Regions from separate parts of the Homo sapiens genome. Here regions 1 and 2 are each reported to be linked to region 3. The links are microRNA targets in miRTarBase. Many come from high-throughput screens and were not tested one by one. Region 3 holds a microRNA gene; each other region holds the end of a gene's coding sequence.

Region 1 (4,183 bases), not on the chromosome of region 3:
ACACTCCTTGTTCTGGAAGTCATGGCAGAAGATGAACTCGTTTTTGCTCACCCCCAAGTTGGACACCTCGCTCATGTCTGGGTGGCGATATCGGCAACGCTTGCCTCGCTTGCACACATTCCTCAAGAAGTCTCTACAGATGGCATCTGAGCTGGCCCCGCCACTGCCTACCCCTGCCCCACTGGCCTCCTCGCTGCCACCACCTCCAGGGCCTCCACCGCTGCTCCCGGTACCGTTGGCATAGCTGTCCCGGTCAGGCATCCTGGTCCCGCCCAACTCAGGGTTTTCTTTATCTTGCCACTCTTGGTGACCACTACAAAAGAGGAGAACTGTATCAAACAGGAGTCCTCCAGGGAGATCCCACTCTTCCTGACTATAAAGCAGGTGGCCCAGAGGGGCAATGGCTTTAGAGATGGAGAATCTAAGGGATAAGAATTCTGGCTGAAATGTCTGACTCATCAAAAGCCCCTCCCAGGGTTTTGTGCACCTGGTCTGGGTCAGAATGATTCACACTTGCCTGGCTAACGGAGGAGGGATAGGCCCAGGACGGAGCAGGGAAAAAATAGTGTTGGAATTCATCTTTCCTTTTGAGCTGACCTTATTAAAGTTGTGGAAGTGAAATTAAAACTGCAGTCAGTATCTGAATAGTCTGGAAGGAAACTGGGAATAGTGCCCAAGATGGGCTACTGAGCTACTAGGGCTGTAGAAGATGGGACACTGGTAACAAAACTTCCTTAACCCCCTTTCCTTTTCCTCAGGTAAGGGCTCTGTACACATCAAATCTCTAGAAGCCAAGAAATCCTGGGTGAAGAGACTGGTGTCACCAGCTTGAGGGGAGTCTCAAAACCTGTCATATTTTAGTATTCCCTCCCAGCCATCATCACTGTCAACGGCAGAGAGGTAAGCCCCTTCTATTTCAGGATAGGAGTTCTAAGTTAGAGTCTCCACTTCTAGATTTCCTAGGACAAACCATTTGTGATAAGGTCAAGTGGGAAGGAGTTAATTTCACAGGAACAAGTGACCTTTCCCCATTCCCCACCCCCTTCCTACTCCCCTATGTGAAGATCCCACTGACATCCAACCACACCATTCCTCAACCCAGAAAGATCCTCTTTATTTATAGACTCCATAAAAGCTTTTTAAGTCTCCTATTTCCCAAGAGAGCTTTGGAATGTCAGTCCACTGCCCTGGTTCTAGCCCTCCCCTCTCTCCACCCCCAGTAAGACCTGGAGTCCCTGCTACCACGTGTCTGACCTCCCAAGCCTTTCCTATGCGGTGTTCAGGCTCCCCCTGCTGCTGAAATAGGAAAACTTCATATTGTTCCCTTTGAGAATAAGGGAATCTTTCCTAATTCCTTTGGCCTTGACCTACCCCCACCCCACTACTGTGACTTTGCCTTCAGATCTCCCTAAAATGAACTAACCAAACCAGAGGCCAGAGTTACAAGAGAATCTGTAAGAGGGTCCTCCTCCTCTAAAGAGAGGTAGTCCCAGAATAATAGAAGCAATCAAGGAAAGAAGTGGTAAAAGAAGATACAAACTTTTAGTAAAGGGGAATGACCAGGTGAAGTACAAATGCCATCTATCCAAGCCTGGCTCACGTTGCAAGTCGCACCAGCAGCAGATAATTAGTTATGATGCTCCTCCCCACCCCACTCTCCCAGAATTGATACCTGAGGTAGCTCAGGTGAAGTCCGGGGCTCCTGTGGGTCTCCACCTCCACATCACTGCTGGGTTCTGAGCAGGAAAAAAACAGAGACTTGGGTGGAAGAAGGAGTAAGAGTGGAGGACTATGGGGTGGTTGTCACAAGAAATCTGACAAAACGGCAAAGCTTCGAGAACGTGAGGATTTCCTCAGGGTTCAAACTGAACTTCACCTGTCCAAGGGAGAAGTTGCCAGTAAGAAGAGTAAAACTAATTCGGAGGGACTGGGAGGAGGGGTTGGAAAACCAGCCCTGAGTGAACAAAGAGTGCGGGGCGCCCTGCCTCAAGATGAAAGAGGATGTGAGGGTCAGAGCACCGCCAAGGGCTGGAGTTAGTAATGGCTAGTGAGGAACCTCAAAAAGGCAGCGTCTGACAGTGCATTGGGATGGCCGATTAGACTTGAAGGCAGTGATTGTGACGCTTCCCAACACCCTAGAGTTTGCGAAAGAAGTCCTAGGAGTTTTCCCGCAGCAAGTCTTCTAGCTTGGCAGGTTCCGTGCAGTGCCGCCGGCGCTCAGCCGTGGGCTACGTGAATGGGACACTAAGGGCGCGCGAAGTGAAGCGGGGAGCTGGAGCTCCAGGTGTCATCAAGCTGAGGGGATGGGCAGGGTTGTGACGTCACGAAGCTGGCGTTTGCTCGCGATGCGGGGTCACTCAGAAAAGGGGCACTGCCCTGGGGTGTGAGGACGAGCCAGCTCGGTTCTGGGGGGCCTTCTGTGGCCTGGCCGAGCCCAGCCGCTGGGCCGGCCCCGACTCCTCCCCTCCGGGCGCGGCCTCCACCTAAGTCTCCCGCCTCCCTCACCTGCCGCCGCCGCCGTAGTTGCTGCTGCCGCCTGCCGGTCCTCTAGCTTCGACAAAGAGCCGCCTACCCGATCGCTCTTCCGCTTCCTGCGGAAGAAGTGACGCTCTAGCCAGCAGACCCGGAACCATACTCTATGGTGTATGAAGTACGCGTGCGACATGCCGCAGGGCGTTCCCAGCACGCTTTGCGTGTCACTATGGCAACCCAACCCAAAGGCACGACATGGTCTAAGCGGTAGTCGCCAAGGCAGCCCTCCTGGAAAGGGGCGGTACCAGCATTGGCCCCTAATAACCCGCGAAACCTAAAACCTGCCTCCAGAGACGTACCATATCCCATCCAACTCCAGCGAGATGCAAACCACACCACGTAACCCGGGCTGTTGCCTTTATAGCTTTGATACCCTCCATAGCACAGGTAGTGACAGGGCAAACTCTAATGACAGAAAACCCCCACCCGATGGAACCATAAAAAACATAATAGACAAGATGATTTAATTCTTCAGCTAAAACAGCGGAAGAGGTGATTTATTATATGGTTGTTACACTCGGCCACAAATAAACACAGAAATAGTCCAGAATGTCACAGGTCCAGGGCAGAGGACCAACATGGGCATTTTGTTTATGAGCAAGGTGGGTCTCAGAGGTGATCGGCGATCAGAGGGCGATGAAGTTCTAGATCCATTGAGACAAGCTCTAGACAGTAGCATGCAGTCCCACAACTTGTACCAGCATCCCCAGCGTCTGGCATTCCATGTTTCTGCTCCTGTGGCCTCCACGGTGCAACAAGCTAGCGGTTTACTTGGACCTCTGCCTCATCTTTCTTCTTTTGCGCTTCAGCCTGAAAAGCAGACACAGGAATGGAATACACCTCAAACCAGAGTTGCCTTTCCCTCCCACATTAAATCAAACGTCCACATAAAGAATGAGGTGGTAAAATGAACAAGCACTACGGTTCTATCGTTCTCTGTTCTGTTAAATCCTGGCTCCAGGGAGAAAACACTCAAACGTTTTTCTCCTAAAGATCTTTTAAGATTTCCAAACCAAATGTTTCTCCTAAGTTTTGTCCAAGGAACTTCCCTCCTCCTGGGCTGGCAAAGTCTCAACGTACCTGCGCATTCGCTTCTTCCTCCACTAGCAACCGATCACAAGCAGCAGATAATTAAAAAAAAAAAAAAAAAAAAGGGATGAAGCTTATTAGTAGGCTTAGCAAGGATATGAAATGCACTCTTTAGAACCGGACAGATTCTTAACCAAGAAGTATGAAAGATTGGTCGTAACAACTACATCAGTAACTTGGACACCCTCCCAACATAAGATCAGAATTCCACCCTTTTCTAAGCCCACCCTCTCTACCCATAGCACTTAACCGCTAGCTCTCTCACAAACTACCTTCTCTCTCCCACCAGCTCTTGGGCACCCTTGAAACCCAGTAGTTCAGGAGGTATGGCGGACTTGCCTTCGTCTCCTCGCTACTACTCGCCAACTCCTACCTCCCAAGCTTACTACCAGGAACCGCTCACCTTGGCTCTCATGGCGCAGAGGTTTCTACAGGGAAAGAGAGAAAGGCTACAGTTAGTTTGCTGTGATGATGCTAAGTGCCGAGGTCAGATGTCTATGGATTGTACACGGAATCCCAACGCAGGAACCAAAAAACACTCACCCAAAAAAATGGCGCTAAG
Region 2 (4,183 bases), not on the chromosome of region 3:
GAGGCCATGGAGGAGGGGCCCTCATTCGAGTATGCCTATGATGGGAACTATGCAAAAAATTCCTCAAAACCACAGTATTCCAGATAAGTCACTTACACAAGGATACTCAACTAACAATGAATGTCTCCACCCATGAGCTATTGCCAACTCTGCAACAAGCCCCTGTAACCAATGGTCTTTGTTCCAAAACAGTTTACGTGGACTTCTTTTTGTTTTTAAAAGCTTCCCCTTTGCCACAACTCCTTTGGATGAGCCTGTGGTCTGCCATAGCATGCATATCCCAGATTGCAATCCCCTGCTATTCCCAAATAAACTCTGCTTTGGAGAGTTGGTCTCTGTTGTTCATTTTAGGTAGATATATCTTGTTGTTTAAGTTAACAAGTCACAGGATCAAGAAACACTTCATCTACACCTTCATCTAGATGAGATCCTAGAATTTAGGTCTCACATGACTGGATAAGATTTTTGGTCTTCCTTGAGGAGGGGCTGTGTGTTGTGTGTAATATAGGAGCAGATATTCATGACCAATTCACTTTCCCTACTTATGAGAGTATTATACCATCCATGTTTGCCACTCTGTAGGTAGAGTATGCTTCTCCAGTCTCATGTTAGGCTTGTCCATGTGATTTGCTTTGGTCAATGGTATATGAACAATTTGATTTACACCATATTCAAGCAGGAGTCTGAATGTGCTTGCATGGTATGGTTTGTCTCTTGCTCCTGCTCTTCACTATAAAAAGTGTATGTCCCAAGTAGGAACTATTCCATCAGTCTAGTGCCAGAGAAAGAAGACTGTGGAACAGAGCCAAGCCAAGCAAGCCAAGGTGAGTCGAGCAGAGCTGCGGCTAACTCCTAGACCCATGAACAAGAAACGTTTGTCAAAAGTCACTAAGATCTGGAGTTTATTGCTTGTATTAGTCTATTCTCAGGGAACACTCTGGGGGTAAAATAATATTTTATATATTAACTTTATTATATCCTTCTTTGTTTTTGAGACGGAGTTTCGTTCTTGTTGCCCAGGCTGGAGTGCAGTGGCGCGATCTTGGCTCACTGCAACCACCACCTCCTGGGTTGAAGCGATTCTCCTGCCTCAGCCTCCCAGTAGCTGGGATAACAGGCATGCACCATCACACCCGGCTAATTTTGTATTTTTAGTAGAGACGGGGTTTTCACCATGTTGGTCAGGCTGGTCTCGAACTCCTGACATCAGGTGATCTGCCTGCCTCGGCCTCCCAGAGTGCTGGGATTACAGGTGTGAGCCACTGCGCCCGGCCTATATCCTTCCTTTCTATATGACTTTGAGTTTCTCTTGTGTTGAAGAATTTAAACACCAAATTTCTAATTCCAGCTCATTTTATTTTTATTAAAGTGCTTCAGTAGATGAACAGTGTTATCAACAATCAACACAAACTTTACTGAAATATTCACAAATAAAAATCCTCTGTAAGTCACTAAAATGTTTTTCTATGTAGTAAAAGTAATCACCATTGGAGACTGGTGAATTTGAATTTATTCCTAACCACATACATGGTTTATATATTAACTTTATTATATCCTTCTTTGTTTTTGAGACGGAGTTTCGTTCTTGTTGCCCAGGATGGAGTGCAGTGGCATGATCTCGGCTCACTGCAACCCATACATGGGTTCTCAAATTGGAAGATTCAACCTGGTTACCTTAATATATGGGGCTGGCTGTCAATACCTGAAAGCTAGTCCCAGCAAGTCTGTGGAAAAAAATGATGTGATTGGAAACTAATCATTTATCCTTAGTGCTTCAGTTTCTCCATCTGCACTGAGAAGTAACCTTCCCTTAGAAAAGGGTTGTAAATAAATACAAAATGTTAAAGCTTAGCATACTTCTGTGCCTCAAAAAGCATTCACGTACATGCTTTTAAAAGGGCAATTTCTTTGTTCTTGACATAAATTGAATACTATCTGGCTTTATAATAAATTGATGGATGATTACTCTTTCCTTGAAAATTATCTTTTTACTCAAATCATATTAAAATCATACTAGCCTGACTGTAGATTAATTTACAGGAGTTGTGCTCAGTAAATTATTTTGATTGCAGTAAGGACTACTGTCCTACTTAGGTAAAATTTACAAATTATTTTAAAAAGTTTCATCCATTACTTAACATTCTCCAAGACCTATCCATAGAGACAGAAATCCTGGTACTTTAAAGCACAAAGAGGCAAAATCCAAAATTTACTTGTTAGATTTTGGTATAGCTCCTTTGGATACTGTCAAGTATTTTATTCATGTCCTTGAAATGATACTGTGGTTGACGAGGGGCAGAGTAAATAAGCAAATTTTGACTATATCACCCAGCATAAAGTGACCTGGTGCCATCATAAAAAATTCAGTAGTGCCTAAGTTGGGGGAGAGGGGCAACATGTATAGTAAAAAAGCTTGAAGAGGCTGGGCATGGTGGCTCACACCTGTAATCCCAGCACCCTGGGAGGTGGAGGCGGGCGGATCACCTGAGGTCAGGAGTTTGAGGTCAGCCTGGCTAACATGGTGAAACCCTGTTTCTACTAAAAATACAAAAAATTAGCCAGGCATGGTGGTGCGTGCCTGTAATCCCAGCTCCTTGGGAGGCTGAGGCAGGAGAATCGCTTGAACCCGGGAGGCGGAGGTTGCAGTGAGCCGAGATCGTGCCATTGCACTCCAGCTTGGGCAACAAGAGCGAAACTCTGTCTCAAAAAAAAAAAAAAAAAAAAAAAAAAAAAAAAAAGCATATGATCCTAACTAAATCAGAAACTTTTTTAAAAACCTTGTTTATCTTGAGAAGTATGTGATTCTGCTGTAAAAGAGAAATATAAAGAGGCTGGTATATCAACTCTCACATTTTCAATGAAATGTGCAATACTTTTAAGTAGAGACAGTATTGCTAAATCTCCACATGACACTTTGAAACTGCTAGCAATAAACGGGAAAAAAATCATTAATCAACACTGCAGAAAAAGAAAAATGGTAAGCTGTGATGCTTTTACTTTTCAATTAGAAAAATATATTGATCACGACCACAAGTGGACATACCATCTGAATAAATAAAGCCTCCTGTAGTTAACTTGTCATTTAAAAAATGAATTAGATGAAAAGGATAATTTTCTGCAGTATGCTCAGCCATTTGAAGACTGGAGTCATTTAAGAAAAACATGAAACATCCTTAGAGAGGACCTAATTATTTCATATTGGTTGTGGCTCTTTAAAAATGGCAGAGCATTCCATGCCCTATACAGAGTACACAAGGAAATAATTTTCACATTGAATATAGATCTCTTACAGAATGAGGAAAAAAACACTTTACACAACACACTTTTCGATAACATGCAGTATTGAGGGAATAGTAAATCATCATCCTTCACAAAGAAGGTGCAGGTGCTCTAAAATAATCTTAGAGCTAATGATTTCAGAAAGAGGCTTCCAAATTTGAAATTTAAAATGCAAACTTAATTTCAAAGTTGGTTTTTCCAAATCTCTGATAAGTCCTAGGAATCCAGTGTGAGCAAGAAGAAAACTTTCTCCCTATTTTATGACTTGTACCTCCCACTATCTGTGATGAATGCCATGGGTCAAATGCCATAACAAATTTCCTCTTTTAGAGCCAGCAAAGTCTAGCCTGGTTGTAGCCAAGACTAAAGCAGGAAAAGGTCCTACCAAAGAGCTTGTCTAGAATTGATCCACCAAAAGATTTCCAAGGCCAACTGGGCACCCAACTGACCCCAGGGCAAGTTGATCATTTTATTGTGATTCAGGATCCCACCCTTGCACCATCTTTAGGCCCAAGAGCCCCCAGAAGAGCCCTGAACTGGTAACAGCGCCTGTATGGACAGGGTAGGCAGAGCACAGTTTATTGGAGCTGACCTCTATCTATTGATGCTTGTTGACAAGAACTTAGTCAGTGATTCTGGAGCAGCTCCTCCCAACAGATGGGCTGTGAAAACACCTCTCTCTCGAGCCAGAGCTCATATGAATAGTGGAAATCTTCAGGCAGATCCAACCTCTGCCCCAGTACGCTCTGCAAGCAGTTATCCACAGGTGAAAACTCAGAGTCCTGGGGTCTGTCATAGCGACGGCTGTTAAAAGCCTCAATGTTGGCCCTCAAGGTACATTCTTCTGCTTGGAAGTCCCATGGTCTGGCATCGATGTCTGTGTTGGAAAGAGAGGAAGAAGAAG
Region 3 (4,183 bases):
AGACATTCTCAGAGACGAAATACCTCACAGAACATAGTACCTCAAAGTCTTTCCAACAAGGTTTGTGAAGATCGCTAGATAAAATAGTCCAGGTAAGTAAGAGCTACATGGAGAAGCCACATTAAGACAGCTAGTGAAAGCCTCAATGCAAAAAACAGTGGACAATAGCTATAAATTTCTGAGAAAAAACAAGTAGGCTGAGACTTTTATACCTAGTTAAGCTGTCCCTTGTGCATAAAGAGATATATACTCTCAAATGCACAGGAACTCAAGGGTAGTGTCTATGAGCTATTCTCACAGAAACAATAAGATCATTTCCATTGAGAGATAAATTAAACTTAAAAACTAAAGAACGGAGAAACCTCAGTTAAAAAAAAACAAACCTTGTGGTCAGAAATGAATTCATTTAAATATAGAACTATGGCAAAACACCTGCAAGAATTATAGTTCTAGAACAAATTGCAGATATTTATAATGTAAAATTAAAATGTATAATTGAGAAAAAGCAGGAGATAGTAAGCAAAGGAAGAATAAGAATGCTGACTTCTTTATCTTTCTGAACTAGGAGTGAAATTGAAATAGTTAAAAACCATAACAATCCTAACCACTTAATTTTTACACTCTAATTTTTCTTAATTTTACAGGGATCTTTTAGGAGTTGCTACCTGTGGTGGTAAAGCGAGAAACATTTATCAATCATTTCAATCTCCTTTAGCTTGTTTTTTATGATAAATTCAAGGAAAATTATAGTTAGCATTTTTAATAAAATGATTAGGTACAGTGTGATCTCATATTTTCCCTGCGTCTGTCTTGTTTTTCTATTTGCATGTATGCTCAGACAGGTGTATGAAATTTCTAAAGCCCTTAATGGTTATTTCTGGGTGCCAGAGAATTGGGCAATTTTCCTTCTTTTTCATTTAGATTTTTCCACATCGCTTGAATTTTATTAAGCATGTGTCATTTTCATAAATATGGTAATAAGGTAGAATAATTATCCTTTTTGAAAAGAAAAACAAGAAATTGAAAATGCAACTGTCTTCTGTTCTTAAATTTGCTGTGGCCTCCAGATCAACAGATGTGGTGAGTCACCCTTCCAGTGAGTCCCCAAGAATGCTGAAATCAACGCCCCTTCCCTGAATTTGTCAACATGTCTAAGAAGTCCTTCCTCCATGGTAAGATTTAATAGTGAAAGAGAAGAGAACTATACATTGTTTTTCTTTAAAAAAAAACACAAAACCCCAGAAGCATCATGGGCACCACCACTTCCTCAGTCACAGAGGGGTCTTGAGCACAGATCACATGCTTCTTCCCCAGGAATGCACTGGCTGAGGATTAGGAGTGCTAGCAGCACCTACCCATTGGTTCCAGGGCCACACACATGTTCAGTTGCACTGGTGTGGAACCAACATGAGTATGGTGTCCCCTAAATCGGCATCAGGTCCAAGAAGACACCTGGTGAGATCTGATACCGAAAAGAGGTCGACCGTGTATTGGGCATCATTAAATAATGCGAACTCACCACGGACAACCTCCCTCCGAGTACCATGAGGTGGCACTGCTCGCAGCATTCCTGCATCTTCTGCACAGCCTGGGCAGCTTGGGAGTGGCCTCTGAGGGTGGATGGGACCCTGAGGATGAGTGGACCAGGTGGCTCAAACCCATGCTCTCCGGCCAACCCCAGGTTCACCAAGCCAGGATTAGTGTGCACAGAAATACCACTTCTTGTGCTCAGCTGGCCATGCAGGCAACATTTAATAATGCAAGGATGTCAGTGGCACAGGAGTCATTAAATATGAAGCAAACCACACACAAATGTGTGTGCAAAAGCAGGCTAAGCACTGCCTCCTTGGTAAACCTGGGATTCCCTTACAGGAATTCTCTGGAGGGTGTAAGGCTGCTGTGGGTTAGTAAACCAGGGGTCGCACAGAGTCCTGTTCCTGTTTTCTTCTGTATCCCGACGGCTGACTAATAAAAGATGCTTCTAGATGCCCAAGATTCAACTCCAAGGTTGAATTTGATAGGAATAAAAAAAGAAGTCAGCCATGTGTATTTCAATCTTAACTTTTAAAAAATTAGGGCATCCCAACAACCTCTCTCGATTTTCCTAAAGTTGGTAGTGCCCCAGGAAGTTGTTTTAGGGTCAGCTTGGACTCTAAAGTTAGTAGGTCAGTTACATGCATCCTCAGGAAAATGCTTGCCATGGGGTCAGCCATCCAGAAACCTACCTTGGAAGCAGCACTGGCTCAGGAAGCCCTCCGAGGCAGAATTTGACACTAAAAGAGAGGAGAGCCGTGTATGACTCGCTTTGATGAATCGAATTCATCACGGCCAGCCTCTCTCCAAGTACCACACATGAACACTGGTGAGAAATCCATTGCCTCTCTGGCAGAGGTGGCCGCCCTTCTCGGGAGTCCTGTTAGGAATGGGTGGGATAGTATTGGGTAGTGGGCCGAGCCGAGTGACATACACCCACATTAAGTGCATGCTCACCCGAGGCGCACTTACCTTAAGGGAGTGCTGAGGGCACTGCCTTCTCCCCAGCAGCAAGGATGCAGTTCGTCCTTCCAGACAAGACAGGGAGCTTTTGCGTAGCTCACTGGTCCCTGACAGGAGAATCATGGCCGCTTCCCAAAGCCGCATTATCTCCATGGAGCCTCCTAGGGAGAGACAGGATGCTGGGTATTAGAGGACGACGTGACAGACCTAACAAAGGCAGCACATGCTCTGGGAAGAAGGATTCAGTCACACACCCAGGAGAAAAGCTGGCCCACATCAGGTCCCTCAACAGAAGACAACATGGCGTCCCACATCGGAAGTCAACACTTCAAGGAGGCTGTCACAGTGGTGAAGGGGCTGCCAAGGCTGACTCATTGCATTTTAAGTAAACATACACCCCCAAGAGCACGTGTCATCGCAGTCCACCAAGCAGTCACAGCAAGTCCATGGCCGCTTCCCCAGAGTTGGTGGGAGCTCTGGAAAGTCTTCCTGGAGTGGGAGTGATGCTGAGGGTTGGTGACTAGGTGGCCCACAGGGTGAACACAGTGCATGCCCCTCTGGTCAACCAGTCACACACCCTGGACGGTGCTGACACCAACATCTCTTCTGGAAGTCGGCCTGGGGCCCAGGGAGCCTCTCTTCAAAGTCTTGTGAGGTGACGCTGGTGACAGAACCACAGCTGATTCCCCAGAGTTGGTGAGACCCATGGGAAGACCTCCTATAGGTGCATGGGAGGCTCGGATTATCGGGCCAGGTGACTTACAGCTAGGTCAGCGCATTGTCCATGGCCCGCCATCCATTCTTGGCTTTTCCACATGGTTGACACAAAGACTATCTTTCCTGAAGCTGCCATTGTGTCCAGGAAGTCCTTAGAGGTAGCATTTGGTACTGAAAAAAGTGTTGTCCGTGAATGATTCGTCATAAGTAAAGCGAATCCACCACGAACAACTTCTCTTCAAGTACCACAGAAAAGCAGAGACAAGACAGACAAGGAGTCCCCTTCCACTTCTCCAAGGGGAGTGGCTGCCAACCACCATCCTGTGGACAGAGTGGACACCGAGCATTAGTGAGGCAGCTTACGGGTGTCCTAGGAACACACTGGAGTTTGGGCAACCCTTCACTCACCTCCCTTGGAGTGGTGCTGGCACAGTCCCCCTTCCCTGGAGTTGAAATTGTGGTCCTGAATCCACACGCACAAGGTTTAGAAATAAGAAGAGGGAAGCCACTTGTCACACGCCAGGAGCACTCCGCAGTGTGTAGACCCCAGGGTTTCTGAACAGGGCCTTGGACTTCTCAACAGAGCACACTGAGTTATCCATCAAGCACATCAAGGTGCCAGCCAGGCTCCCGCAGGGCCCACTGAACTAGGGAGGTCCAGAGGGGGCCCCCTTTTGCCACTGCAGGTGCCCCTAGAGAAACTGCCCAGCTCAGGCACGCCAGGCTCCTGGTAGGTTCCCCATCACTGCCCTGGGTAGATTCTCTATCAATGCCCTTGTGGTCAGAGTGATCTTTCCAACACAGACCACGCATCCCCCCTGCTCACAACCCTTCCAAATCCCCCATCTCACTCAGAATAAAACCTGGAGTCCTGCCTCTCCCAGCTCAGACCCAGCGACTCCCAGCAGCTCGGTTCAATCCCACTGGCCTTCTTGCTTTTTCTTAAAGATGCCAGGGGGCTTTCCATGGG

Evidence for each region. Region 3 holds the annotated microRNA hsa-miR-323b-5p (AGGUUGUCCGUGGUGAGUUCGCA, at 1,509-1,531, opposite strand). A microRNA usually pairs through its seed, bases 2 to 8, with sites in the 3' UTR of a target mRNA and lowers its output. Matches are read on the target gene's strand: a 7mer-m8 pairs with bases 2 to 8, a 7mer-A1 pairs with bases 2 to 7 and ends in A, and an 8mer does both.
Region 1: miRTarBase lists RPL41 as a target of hsa-miR-323b-5p. Seed matches in the 3' UTR shown: 7mer-A1 at 3,038-3,044.
Region 2: miRTarBase lists STRIP2 as a target of hsa-miR-323b-5p. Seed matches in the 3' UTR shown: 7mer-A1 at 3,628-3,634 and 7mer-A1 at 3,200-3,206.

Annotation. Positions count from the first base shown.
Region 1 is chr12:56,116,641-56,120,823 of GRCh38, reverse strand. It overlaps RPL41 (ribosomal protein L41), which reads right to left. Exons shown (of 3, transcript NM_001035267.2): 1 at 4,025-4,183; 2 at 3,613-3,635; 3 at 2,857-3,342. The coding sequence starts at 4,036. The coding sequence ends at 3,300. It overlaps ZC3H10 (zinc finger CCCH-type containing 10), which reads right to left and starts at 2,558. Exons shown (of 3, transcript NM_032786.3): 1 at 2,506-2,558; 2 at 1,673-1,736; 3 at 1-313. The coding sequence starts at 261. RefSeq lists a silencer at 2,834-2,883.
Region 2 is chr7:129,485,552-129,489,734 of GRCh38, reverse strand. It overlaps STRIP2 (striatin interacting protein 2), which reads right to left. Exons shown (of 21, transcript NM_020704.3): 21 at 1,336-4,156. The coding sequence ends at 3,906. Among named protein-coding and RNA genes, the nearest start is that of SMKR1, 15 kb to the left of the region's middle.
Region 3 is chr14:101,053,581-101,057,763 of GRCh38, reverse strand. MIR323B (microRNA 323b) reads right to left here and starts at 1,545; the gene lies at 1,464-1,545. It overlaps MIR382 (microRNA 382), which reads right to left and starts at 3,458; the gene lies at 3,383-3,458. MIR134 (microRNA 134) reads right to left here and starts at 3,077; the gene lies at 3,005-3,077. MIR668 (microRNA 668) reads right to left here and starts at 2,506; the gene lies at 2,441-2,506. It also overlaps MIR485.